Homo sapiens: one gene and its partner. The protein of the gene in region 2 interacts with the protein of the main gene of each other region in a pairwise test. Each region holds a gene or a part of one and is shown on either strand. Other genes may lie near its edges.

Region 1 (3,447 bases), on a different chromosome or scaffold from region 2:
TGGCTCGAACCTGTAATCTCAGCACTTTGGGAGGCCATGGCAGGAGGTTGACTTGAGGCCAGGAGCTTGAGACCAGCCTGGGCAACTCAGTGACACCCCTTCTCTGCAAAAAAAATTTTAAAAATTAGCTGGGCATGGTGGCATGTGCCTATAGTCCCAGCTACTTGAGAGACTGAGGTGGGAGAATCACTTGAGCCCAGGAGGTCAAAATTGCAGTGAGCCGAGATCGTGCCATTGCACTCCAGCCAGGGCAACAGAGCGAGACCCTGTTTCTAAGAAAGACAAGAAGTGTGGTCTGGGGACCTGAAGCATCAGCATCGTCAGAGAGCTTGTTGGAAACGCAGAATTGCTGGCCTCACCCCAGGCCCAAATCTGCATTTTAACAAGATCTCCTCGTGACCTGTGGCATATTAAAGTTTGATAAGCACTGGATTAAACAAGCAGGGAACAGGACTTGGCTCCAGGATGCCGTTGTGACTTCTGTTTCAGGATAAGCCACACCTGCTAAGCCCTAGCAGTGACCTAAGTCCATGATTCAGAATCCACACACCACCTGGTGGCTCCTTTTATTATATCAATTTATTCAAGTGATTAAAAAACTTCTTGGCAGCAGGATGACAAAACAGGTCTGTAAACATGATCTCATCCCCCCATCCCTTCTTCCAAGGAGCTTCCTATGACAGGAAATCGAATTCTAGTTGGCAAATCCAGTGATGAGGTCTGTAGAAAAGGGGTCCCGTGTCACAGCCAGGAAGGCAGACTCGTCCCTTTAACCCACTCCAGCCAGGGGTGCTGGCCAGGATGTGCTGTTCTGTCATGACGTGGTCACTGAGTCTGGTTCGTTGGCAGCCCCTTCCCCAGGAGGAGGGAGACTCTTTGGCAGTGCGGCAGCCCTCCCGGGGGCACGGGCTTCTCGGCAGCAGACACAGGCAGGCCAGAAGCAGGCAGCTGAGCCTCTCCAGCGAGCATGGTATTGCTAGGGTTGCAGGTGCCCTGGCAGGTGGCCAGGTGAGGGGCTGAGGCACAAGTGCTATCAGGAACTTGGCTGCCCCACAGGGGCTGAGGACACCCAGATGGTCCACGCCAGTGGCCTTGAAATTTCCCCTGCAGAAGCCAGACCGTGGGGAAACAAGCTTTCGCGACGTGCCACCCCGGGCAGCTTGAGGCTTCAGTCCTTGAAGGGGTTGTGGGCGCCCCCTGGCTGCTCCTTCTCTGCGGCCAGAGGCTCCCCGTTCATCTCCTGCAGCGGGTGGTATGCATAGTCCCCATGCAGGCGCCGGTTCCTCTCTGCTCTGGACAGGAGCAAGGACAGGTTTGCTGCAGTGCTGATCAGCAGGAGGAAGGCCAGCGCCAGGGTGAGGGCTAGCCAGGCGGTCCTGCAGACAGGAGAGAAGCCCCAAGTGGGGGACTGCTGGGTGGGCTCAGGGCTTGGGTAGCACTGGAGGGGCTTCCCTCTACCCGGCATAGATAGCACTAAATCAGGTGCCTCCAGGGACCACACAGGGAATGTTATGAGCAAAATGGACTAGGTGGGGATGGGGCAACATTTAAGACATGTGCAGGGAACAGCAGAGGCAGTCATGACGTACAATGCAGGTCCGTGCTGCCCCATCTCCTGATTTTTTTTTTTTTTTTTTGAGACAGAGTCTCGCCCTGTCATCCAGGCTGGAGTGCAGTGGCATGATCTCAGCTCACTGCAATCTCCGCCTCCTGGCTTCAAACGATTCCCCTGCCTTGGACTCCCGAGTAGCTGGGACTACAGGCTCGAATCACCACGCCTGGCTAATTTTCGTATTTTCAGTAGAGACCAGGTTTCACCATGTTGGCCAGGCTGGTCTTGAACTCCTGACCTCAAGTGATCCACCTGCCTCGGCCTCCCAAAGTGCTAGGATTACAGGCGTGAGCCACCACGCCTGGCCTGATATTTTAAGAGAAGCCATTAAAAAGGTTTTTAAGGCTGGGCGTGGTGCTCATGCCTGCAATCCCAGCACTTTGTGAGGCTTAGGCGGGCGTATCACTTGAGGTCAGGAGTTCAAGACCAGCCTGGCCAACATGGCGAAATCCTGTCTCTACTAAAAATATGAAAATTAGCCGGGCACCTGTAATCCCAGCTACTCAGGAGACTGAGGCAGGAGAATTGCCTGAACCCAGGAGGCGGAGGTTGTGGTGAGCTGAGATCGCACCACTGCACTCCAGCCTAGGCAACAGAGTGAGACCCCGTCTCAAAAAAAAAAGTTTAAAAAAATGTGAATGTTACTGATTTTTAGATGCTGCTGATATATTTTAACTTTTTAAAAATTATGTAAGCCAAATAAAACACAGCTGGATGCTGGGCATGGGGGCTGGGAGGCCAAGGTGGGAGGATCACTTGAGCCCAGGACTGTGCACCTCGTCTGTGCAAAATAGTGAGATCCTATCTCTAAAAAACAGTAAGAAATAAAATTAGCCGGGCATGGGGGCACGTGCCTGTCGTCCTAGCTACTTGGGAGGCTGAGGCGGGAGGATCGCAGTGAGCTGACTGTACTACAGCACTTCTGCCTGGGTGACAGAATGAGGAAACCTCCTGCCCCCACCCTGGGATCTCATCTAGCCCAGTTTGCATTCTGAGCTCCAGTGGGGGATGCTGACAACAGAGGCTGGGCACTCGAAGGCCCTGGGCTCTGCTCCAGGGTCCCCAAAGCAGACAGTGGGGAGAGCTGGTCCCGCTTCCTCTAAGGCAGGGAGCTGGCAGGGGACAAGGGCAGAGATGGACCTCACAGGGGAAGGGTGCGGGAGAGAAGGGGGATTCCTCCCGCCCTGGCCCCAGCTCCCACAGAAGCACCTACCTGGTGAAAAAGGAGAGTTCTCCCGCCCTCAGGGTGGCTTCAGGTGGCTGGAGACACTGCTTTACTGTAACATACCAGAGACAGGCTGAAGGGGCCGGAGCAGGAGCGTCTGCCCATACCCCTCCCCTTGGAGGGATAGGTACCTCTGGAGACGCTGCAGTTGCCAGTCTTGGGGTCACAGGGACAATGGTGCTCACACTTACAAGGCCTCTGGCAGCCCGGCCCATGCCAGCCAAGGGGACACTCTATGGAAAGGAGATGGGAGGAGGGAGGAGGGAGGAGAAAGGTTGGGGCCTCCAGTGTCAGAGCCTTTCTCGACAGGACAGGATACCTGCCCCTGCCCATGTGTACAGAGCCGGGCTAAAGGTGAAGCACCCCCTGCCCTCCCTGGACTAGCCCCTGAACGTGACCTTATTTGGAAGCAGAATCTCTACAGAGGCACTGCAGTTAGGATCTCAAGATAAGACCGTGCTGGATTTGAGGTGGGCCCTGGAGCCAGAGCCCGGGGACCCTTGTTTTAGCCGAGCCCTTTGTGGAACGGGCCGCAGCAGCCACAGGGGAGTCACACAGTGATGTGCAGGTGAGGCCGGGGCAGAAGACAAGAGGCAAGCATTTCCCAGAC
Region 2 (3,751 bases):
CTTACTTGTAGATTTTTTCCCTTCTGGCCTTAAAAGAAGCTGTGTATACAGCTTTACATAACTTTCCCTTTAAACTTAAACCTTTATGGTAGTCCCATTCAACCACTTGACAGCTCCATTAATCTATTTTTACTATTAAACATGCCATTTTACAAGATATTTATTCCACTTGGTCGTCATCCAAACGCTTTTTGACATTACTGCCCTGGGAGTGAACTGCTTAAACTCGCTGCCCTCATAAACAGAAAATCACCTTTTGACTCAAATCTTGAAGAGCTCTCAGAACCTCACCCCCTTCACTTCTACAGGCATTAATTTCTGCCATATATAAAGGAGAGAGTGAGTAAGTGTGTGTGTGTGTGGTTTTAAGAGGGTAATTGTGGGAGGTCTGGGCAATTCAAGAAGTGCTGGGGGAAGGAATCCTCTCCTCTAACTCCATTCTGCTCATCGGGGCCTGCCTGAGACCTGGAGATCTGGTAACTTAACAGAGAGAAAGTGATCAGAGAGCAGGTTGGGGAAGAACTCCAGGGCCTAAAAGGCAGTGTCCCAGGGGGCCAAGCTGAGCAACCACTCTTTAAAAGGGGAGGGGTCGAGGGAAAGTCCTTATTCATCGACTTCTCTCCTTCTCCACGCCCCAGACAAACAAAAGGCCACCGCGAAACAGTTGAAGGTAGAGACCTACTGGCTTTGAAGACTATCAATCAGGTGGAAACCTGAACAAATCACAATTTGGCTTCCTCATCAAGTTTTCTCCCCAGCCTGACAAACCCTCCTCCGCCGCCGCCTCCACCTCCTCCTCCGCCTCCCAGGCTCAGCACAGCTACGAGGCCAAAGGGACCGTCCTGTGATGCCTGCTGGTTTCCAACTTTCCGCTCATCTTCGTCTCCGCAGCCTCCTGCAAAGCGGCTGGGAAAAGGGCAAGTTTGCAAAGCCGAGGATACAAGTCCTGGGGAAGCCACAAAGAAGCTGCAACACCAACAAAGATTAACCTCTTGTGGGGCAGACGAAAAGCGCCAGCTGCCGTTCAGGGGGGCGAACGTGGGCTCGGGCTGGCAGAGGCTCCGGCCAGCTGGCAGCGGACAGCAGGGCCGGGGGTCCCGCGGCCGCCCTCGGCCCCCCGCCCCGCGCGGACTCCCCCTGCACCTGAGCGGGGGTGAGGACAGCGCCGCGCTCCGGCCCTGCCCCCGCCAGGTAGCTCGGCTGCCGCCCGCGCTGCGCGCCCGCTGCCTGCAGCCGCCGGGAGCGACGAGAGCAGAGGCAGCCTCGGCCCACGGCGTCATGCTTCCTGCCACCACATTACGGCGAATCGTCACCGGGAGAGGGGAGCGAGGGGAGAGGGGGAGGGAGGGGAGCAGACACACGCAGCCCCCCGCCTGCCAAAACGCGCGGAGACGGGGCCACGTCCCGGTGGAGTCCCCGCGGGACCTGCCCCGTTTGCACAAAGCGCCGCAGTTTGGCCAAGAAGGGAGGGAGACGGCCACGAAATAAATAAATAAAAACAGTCGGGTCTACGTAACGCCCTGTCGAAAGCGGACGCCATATTTTTTTGTGGCTTATGTCGACATAGGGAAACGTAGACATGTTTTTCCTCCTCCTCCTCCTCCTCCTCGCTCTGGCTCCCATTTATCCAAACTTGTAATCAAAACTCTTAAAAAAAAAATCTTCTTCCCTCTCTGTATCCGCTCATTTCCTCCCACCCGCAAAAAGAGCCTGCACACCCCCCCCCTTCCGTACCCCCCTTCCAATCACAAACCCGGCCAAGTCCCATTAACAACACATTTTCGGGAGCCGCGGCGGCGACGGCGGCGGTGGGAAAGTTGGGCTGGAGTGGCCGGCGCCCGGCGTGCGGGGTTTGGGGCCGGCGGCGCCGGCTGGGGGGCTCCGCGCCGAGGCGAAGTTTCTTACCTGCGCTGGGGCTGTGAACGCGGGGACCCGGGCTGGGAACGCGGAGACGCGGCACGGGCGTTCCAAAATGGAACTCTGCTGGCTCCCCCCACCCACTCCCCACTCCCCACCGGGCGCCCGGCTCGGGCTCCGTGGGAAAGAGGGGGAAAGCCAGCCTGCCAGCCAGACAGACAGACAGAAAAAGCCCCCGTACGGAGAACGATGGCCAAAATTTTTAAAAGAAAAAAAAAAAGGAAAAAAAAAGGGAAAAAAAATGCCTCGATCAGTGGGGAATCTACGCCAAAACCCACATGATCTGTAACGTCAGCATGCGTATTTGCATACGATACCACCACCCGAGCTGCCACCCGGGCTCGGGTTCCGCAGAAAGTTACAAAGTGAAATTCAGCCCCCTCCGGAGACACCGGCGAAATGTCATTTTTCAGGCAGGAGCTGGGGGGGAGGCTAGCCCTAAAGGCGCTGGTTACTGGCCAAGGTAGGGGGGCAGTAAATTAACTTAAAAGTCTGAGCCCAGTAACGGACTCGGTGGAATTTCTGCGAGAAGAGGAGGGGGAGGCGCGAGCGAGATCATTGAATATTAAGCACGACCCCGCGCGGCGGCCGCGGCCAAACCGTCTCCGTGCAATACCCATTTTCTTTATGAAAAGTTCAAGGTGTCACTGATGAGCTCAACAAACTGTTGATCTTGACCACGTGGAGTGGCGGACCGTGGGACCGAAGGGCGCGCTTGCAGGCCCGGCTCTGGCGGTACCCGGGCCCCGGGACCCTTTGCGTGGGACTGTGCGCGGGTGGGGCCACCACGCACCCTGGGCGCTGCCTGCGCCTTGGCCCGGCTTCAGGCTCAGGAAAATAATAATAACGATTTTAAAACTATGTTGAGCGAGACACATTTTACTCCCGGAATGATAATGAGAAGGCTCGGCGTAGGGAGGGGAAGAAGGAGCCCCCCACTTATATAACGACTTGAAGTTATATCACTTTTGCTTGGGGAGATTCCGGGATTTCCGCCCGCGCCAGGTCTGAGGCTGGTTAAAGATCTTCAAACTTTTTTCCCTTAAGAGCCAATAAACAAACAGACGCCCCAGGGGCCGACTTAAACTCTGGTAGAGCCCGAGTTCGCTGGAATTCTCAGATTCGAAGAAATGCACACGCCTGCGGTGCTCGCAGAGAAGTCCCTCGGAAGCTAGGCGGGTCGCTTTCGCAACTGGGACTCCAATGTTCCCAGTGGGAGCGGAGCTCTCACCGCGGCAGCCCCCAGGTTCCCCTAGGCGCCTTAGAGCAAAGGTGGCGGGGGATCGCGCTGCCCTTCGCCCGCCGGCTCGGAACCATGAACTTGTATTCCGGGCGCCGCGCTCCTGCCACAGTGCTCGGCTAAAGAGCTCTAAGGAATTCGGGATCTGGGTACACTTCGGGATCTCAGGCGGCAACCTGTCTGCGCCGCGCATTCCTGCCCAGATGTACCTTGTTTCCCCCTGGGCTGGCCTGTGGACTCTTGGGCAGCTCCCGGGCGGGGACGAGGGGATGCGGTCTGGGGGCTAGTTTAGAAGCTTCGAGCGCAGCGAGAAAACAAAGGGAGCCTGGGGCTGGGAGGCTCTGCGGAGTCCCCGCCCGCCCTGCAGATTAGCAGGCGCGTCGCGTCGGGGCTTCCCGGGCAGCTCTGCTCTGGGGAATTAGAACGAACTCTAGCGGCCGTTTGCAACTCGGCTGTGGGCGCGAGGGCATCAACAGGTGGCCGTGTGCAGCGGAGAGGCCAATGGCGAGGACCCGGACTGGGGTGAGGACGGCTGGCCTTGGGGCTGACTGGGTGGCGGATGCGCTGGGTGACCTTTTGGCTTTTTCATTTCCG

The links. Proteins that work in one complex are often made in the same cells at the same time.
Region 1: the proteins of ZHX2 (region 2) and NAGPA interact in a two-hybrid assay, tested with the Homo sapiens proteins (one large-scale study listed by BioGRID and IntAct).

What each region holds. Positions count from the first base shown.
Region 1 is NC_000016.10:5,024,310-5,027,756, forward strand, and holds the end of NAGPA (N-acetylglucosamine-1-phosphodiester alpha-N-acetylglucosaminidase precursor), read right to left. Parts: intron 3,071-3,447; coding exon 2,969-3,070; intron 2,890-2,968; coding exon 2,826-2,889; intron 1,377-2,825; coding exon 1,169-1,376; 3' UTR 535-1,168; downstream 1-534. UniProt on the Homo sapiens protein: Catalyzes the second step in the formation of the mannose 6-phosphate targeting signal on lysosomal enzyme oligosaccharides by removing GlcNAc residues from GlcNAc-alpha-P-mannose moieties, which are formed in the first step.
Region 2 is NC_000008.11:122,780,101-122,783,851, reverse strand, and holds the start of ZHX2 (zinc fingers and homeoboxes protein 2), read right to left. Parts: upstream 2,198-3,751; 5' UTR 1,906-2,197; intron 967-1,905; exon of another isoform or gene 683-966; intron 1-682. UniProt on the Homo sapiens protein: Acts as a transcriptional repressor. Represses the promoter activity of the CDC25C gene stimulated by NFYA.